2 separate regions of the Homo sapiens genome follow, and region 2 is linked to region 1. Evidence: fine-mapped expression QTL. Tissue or cell type: aorta. Region 1 holds a variant in brackets; the other region holds the start of a gene. All regions are shown on one strand. Distances are between the middles of the regions.

What was found. PIP is the estimated chance that this variant, and not a neighbour inherited with it, causes the effect.
Region 2: it holds the start of CYBRD1, and the variant in region 1 is fine-mapped to the expression of CYBRD1 in aorta (GTEx, PIP above 0.99). The same link has a PIP of 0.9 or more in fibroblasts.

The regions. Positions count from the first base shown.
Region 1 is chr2:171,549,568-171,552,478 of GRCh38, reverse strand. The region is part of intron 2 of CYBRD1 (cytochrome b reductase 1); the gene reads right to left. Among named protein-coding and RNA genes, the nearest start is that of CYBRD1, 29 kb to the right of the region's middle. The variant ATT/T (reference allele first, on the strand shown) is at 1,614.
Region 2 is chr2:171,520,988-171,523,898 of GRCh38, reverse strand. CYBRD1 (cytochrome b reductase 1) reads right to left here and starts at 1,425. Exons shown (of 4, transcript NM_024843.4): 1 at 1,161-1,425. The coding sequence starts at 1,353. RefSeq lists silencers at 787-856, 1,007-1,116 and an enhancer at 1,227-1,336.

The DNA.
Region 1 (2,911 bases):
ACTGTTCAGCTTTCTTGATTGAGATCCAAGGGCTAATGGGGAGACAGAAGAAGGGAGGCAGGGGGAGGGGTCCAACGCCCTAATTCACACTGAGAATCAGCTCATGTGTAATACCAAGTAGTAATAAATGGAAACTGATAACAAAACAATTTGTATGATTTGTCACTTTAACAGACTGCAGAGGAAAAATCATATAATCATCAAAACAGATGGTGAAAAACATTGGTAGGATTCAACAGTCATGTATGAGATGTTTTAACAAACTAGGAATGGAAGATGATTATTTTAATCTGATTATATTAGGACAGAACATGCTATAGGAACTAACAGGCTCCATTTTCAAGAGCTTAACATATAAAAGTATATTTCTTGCTCACACACAGTCTGCTTATGGTCTATAGGCATTTCAGAGTAGCTCTCTTCCAAGACATGACTCAGATCTAGAAGGGATTTGTCTTATATCCCTTATCACCTATTCCTATTCAGCATTTTTCTGAAAGTCTCAGCTACTGAGTTAAGCAAGAAAAAAAAATGATGATAGAAAAAGAAACAAAACTTATTAATCACATAAGATTATAAAACACAATCCAAAAGAATCTTGAGATTAATTACTAACATAAGTTTATCAAGTTTGCTAGGTATAAATTTATACTTGAGATCAGTTGCACTTTTTGTAAAGAGGCAACAAGTGAATTAATTTTTAATGATACCATTTTTAATAGCAAGGAGCTAGCAATAAGTTGGAGACAACAACTCTACAAAGAAAATATAAAGCTTTGCAATATTTTGGAGAAGGCTAAAAAAACAGGCTCAGGATAATGAGTTGGAAGACTTGTATTATACAGATGTCGGTTCTCAAATTCATCTATAGATTAAATAAAATCCTAATAGATTTTTGGTGGAATTTGATGCATTGATTCTAAAATTTACATAGATCAAAGGGCCAAGAATAGCCAAGATTAACTGTTGTTTTCTGAAGTATATCCTAATACAATAAATTCTGTAATTTATATTTAAAAAGTAATAACAAATGCATTTGATAGGTTGGTTTGCATATTTTATTATTTAGTTAATAACCAAAATGCCTGAATATATTAGAAATGGTTCAGAGGGTTCCCTCTTGGTGGTTCAGAATATTCCTAAATCTTCTTCAGTGAACTTCAGTGATTCTATTAGTATCAAAGGGCAAGCTTCCTGATGTCCATGTTGTGCTTTCTATATGAAAATGGGGGCTGAGTGTGGTGCCTCACGCCTGTAATCCCAGCACTTTGGGAGGCCAAGGTGGGAAGATCACTTGAGTCCAGGAGTTCAAGACAAGCCCGGGCAACATGGCGAAACCCCATCTCTACAAAAAATTAGCTGGGCATGGTGGTGCACGTCTGTGGTCCCAGCTACTGTGGATGCTGAGGCAGGAGGATTGCTTGAGTCCTGGAGATGGAGGTTGCAGTGAGCTGAGATTGTGCCATTGCACTCCAGCCTGGGTGACAGAGTGAGACCCTGTCTAAGAAAGAAAAAAGAAAAGAAAGGAAAAGAAAATGGGGCTCAGGGATATAGCACAAATATATCTCCATAAATCATCATATCTTTTCTGTGGCTTACCCATAGAAACATAT[ATT/T]TCTCATTCCTGCTCTCCTATTTTCATTCCTAAGATTCTTTCTGTTTTCTCTCATTTCCTCCATAATTTGTCATGTGTGTCTCTTACAATCCTGTAGGGCTCAACAGTCTAAGCAGGTAGGAGGTCAGAAATTTGCTTACAGGATCCCTGAGCAACTTAACTACCCTAAATCTGACTTTCACCATTAAACATTTTTTGCAACAAAAGAAAATTACATTTAAAAGGAAAAGAAAAACATTACAGAATGCTTAACTTTGATTAAAAGTGTTCTGAATGCTGCAATAATGCATATTTATAATTTATAATAACTTATAATTTATAAATAATCATTATTTCCTTTTAACTATCTTAATCTTACTACCTTACAAGTGAAGGTGATAATTTATAACCTAGTGGACCGAAAATTATAAGACCTTTTGTCTCTCTAAGTCAGTACTGGAAGTGCTGTTCACAGAAGGCATGCATTTAAAGGGATGCCTGCTGTAATCCCAGCACTTTGGGAGGCCGAGGCAGGAGGATCACTTGAGATCAGGATTTTAAGACCAGCCTGGCCAACATGTCAAAACCCCATCTCTACTAAAAATACAAAAACTAGCCAGGCATGGTGGCACATGCCTGTAGTCCCAGCTACTCTGGAGGCTGAAGCAAGAGAATTGCTTGAACCCGGATGGCGGAGGTTGCAGTGAGCTGACATTGTGCACTTCAGCCTGGGTGACAGAGCAAAGCTCTGTCTCAAGAACAAAAACAACAACAACAAAAAAATAAAAAATAAAAAGATGCCTGGGCCACATTCTGACCTGCTAAATCCAATTTCTGGATTAGGGCCCAGGAATCTGTATTTTTAACAAACTGCCCAGACGATTCTTACGTATGTTGAAGTTTGAAAATGACTGCTGTTGATTCACTCAAATTATTCTAGAGATATGGATAAACAGTCTGGAAAACCCTCAAAAGAGAAGGTAGTGGAATATTCCATTATATATAGTCTACAAACACACTAAATGCCAACTATATGCAAACAAAGTGCCCCAGTGTTTAGGAATCATCACCTACAGGAAGCTGTTCTTCAACACAGTGGAAGTTCTTAAGAGCTAAGGAAAAATAAACTTTCATAAAAAGTTATTACTTAGAGATGAAAGTGAAAATACAGTATGACCCAATTATGTTTAAAAATTAAATATCTATATCTACATTTGCATAGGCATAATAAAAGCCTAAAGGGAATAAGCCAAAAGCTAATGATATCTCTAGATTATGGCAGTATCAGTGGGTTTTTTCATTTTTTGTTTTTTTATT
Region 2 (2,911 bases), 29 kb after region 1:
ATTATTTTCTGCGACATAACACCACTCCACCCCTTGCTGCCTTTCTCTAACTACTTTCTGAAGGCCGTGCCTTTGGGGAAGTGGTTACAAATAAATGGTGTTTGCGCCAAAAGCTAGAGGTTCCTCCAGCTACACGGCAAACCGAAGGAAGCAGTCAGGACATTGAGAGGCACTACACAATGACAACAAACATTGCCAGCGACTGCTGAGCCCCTCCCCCGCGCCAGCCTCAGCCCAGAGAATGCAGGCCCGGGGCTGGCTCGCCGCGGGCCAAACACGGACGCAGCTTGCGCCGGGGGCATCCCGAGCAGAGGCATCCCTCGGTGCCAGGCAGCCGCGGGCCCTCTCCGGGCATCTCCCACCCGGAGTGCTGGGCCAGTGCCCAATAGGAAGCCCCGCGGGGGAACTTTCGCCACTCTTCTGCCACATAAACAAGTCGGGCTCAAGACCGTCCAATGACTGGGCAGGGCGGCGAAACACACTTGGAAGTCCTGGCAGCTTCCCGGACTCGACTGAGTTTAACACTCTAGGAGGAGAGGAACCCAGGGCGGATGCTTCACTCGCCCCCCTTGGCCAGCCCCTTTACCCAGGGCCGAGGATGTTACAAATACGGGCAAATTCTCGCTCCGGCAATCTTTTCCCCGCTGCCTTCCCCTCCTCATCTGCAGCCTGGAAGCAAGTTCAGCAAAAGGCTGAGGCGAAAGTGTTTCCGCGCCCCCGATCGCGCAGGCTCGGTCCACAGGGGCGACTTTCCGGGGCGCGTGGGCTGCAGCGGCCCGACTGCGCGGCGCTCCGGCATCGCGCCCGGGCTCAAGTTTCTGGGTCTTGGAGGCCCCTCCAGTGCGTCCTAGCCAGTCGCCGCAAAGAGTTAACCAAGTGGGGCCGGCCCCGCTCCGCCGCCCCCAGCAGCGCGTCTCCACCGCGCACCCCCGGCCCCGCGCTCGCGGCGATCCTCCTGAACCGCAGCTCTGTCCCGCCCCAGAGCCAGCCAGCCTCCCTCCCGCCCAGCCGACTTGGCTTCCCGCGCGCTCCTCACCGCACTCCTCCGGGCCCCGCGATCCTCCAGCACTTCCTCAGCTGGAAGGGGCTTCACGGAGGACCCTCTGCCCCCGCCGTTCTCCCCGCTTTCCTCCCCGCACCCCCCCAGGAGGTGCCAGTACCGATGCCCTGGATGAAGACGAAGCCGGTGACCATGAGCACTGGGTGCCAGTTAAACTCTAGTGCGCTCCCATCCCAGCCAAGCCCCTCTCGGTAGTGGAGGACCCAGACGAGGGCGAAGATCACCGACAGGAAGCCGACGAGCAGTGCCGACCCCAGCAGCGCCAGGAAGCGCCAGTAGCCCTCCATGGCCATCAGCGCCCCATACTCCGCACCGCGGGGGCCACAAGAACTTGGAGAGGCGGCGGCAGCCCTCTGGGTAGTGGCCGGGCGGCGGGACCGGGGCGTCGACTTCTTGGGGCTGTCTCCGCCTGCGGGGAGGGACTTTCTGGGCTGCTGGCCCGGAATGTGGGGCCTCTTGGGGGTGGGGAGCTGGCCCCAACTCAGAAATGGGCCCCACCCCCGGGATCACGCGGCCGCCGAGGGCGCTCATTGCCTGGTGGCCTCACCCTCTCCCTCGTCCAGCATCCAAGCTCGCAGAGGGCTTCAGTAACAGACCTAGTTAGTTGCTCAAAGAGAAAATTCCGAGGATTTTATACTCACCACTTGCTTTTAACACTTCCCGTGTCTCGTCCTTATTTGTGGGGAGGTTGAGTAGGGCAGTGGTGCGCCCTCTTGGTTAAGAGAAGAGAGGGATCCGTTGGGTAGGGTTATGTGTGTGCTTTTAACTACTAACGAAGCCTCCTTAGCCACAGTGCTGGAGAATTGGCTGTCTCTGACATCAAAGGGTGTTAAGGAGGAACCTGTAAGGTGGTGTAAACTAAAAATAAAATCCTAAGCCCCTCACTGACTGAATGGACCTCCTTGGCCAAGCAGACCCCAGAAAAACCTTAAAGCTGAGTTTCTAGCTACAGCCGGAAGGGAAGTCTACCCCCTCCATTTTGGAATTTAGACTCAACAGCTGACTAGCATTAATGTTTAAAATAGAAATCATAAGGCGGACAGAACAGACTCTTTGTAGCAATAAGACATCAAATTATAAAAAGGACCTAAGTCACACACTCCTACACTTAAGAAATAAACTATGGTCTAACTGCCACAAAGGTTTTCTTTTCCTCTAGAGGCTAAACAAGCACTGGCTTGAGATAAGCAATATTAAAACAATTACAACTTAATCAGTTCACAGATGCTGACCAGCTGAACCCCTGTTGCACCAGCCAGAACTACAGCTTTCACTGGGCTGATTTCAGGAACTTTTTCATGATAAGAAGACCGACCATGGACCGGTTCTGGCCAGTGTACAGGGATTGTGCACTTGTATGCATTCACGTCCTGAAAAGACCTTTTGAAGTGTAGGTTTGAAGTAATACATTTAAATGTATTTGAAGTAATACAATTAAATGTTAAGTCTCCACCCCAAAGAGAACATGTTACATGCATGTTTGTTCAATATGCATGTGTAAGGACCACCTCCATTAATATTCATAGCTCCTCCTGTAACCTGTTACGTATGTATGTTTGGCCAAACTGTTCAGCATAAAGCTCCTACCCCAACCCCTCTGCCTTCCAAGTGCCTGTCTCTGGTCTTAGGCCAGAGGCTATGTTTATCAGCCTATGGAATGGCCTCCTTGCAGGCTATAACCTTTTATAAGAAATAAAGTCTCCTCTTTTTTCAAATTTATAATTTTTTGTTTTAAGTTAACAGTAAAGGCCAGGCGCAGTGCCTCACACCTGTAATCTTAGCACTTTGGGAGGCTAAGGCGGGCAGATCACTTGAGTCCAGGAGTTTGAGAACAGCCTGGGCAACAAGGTG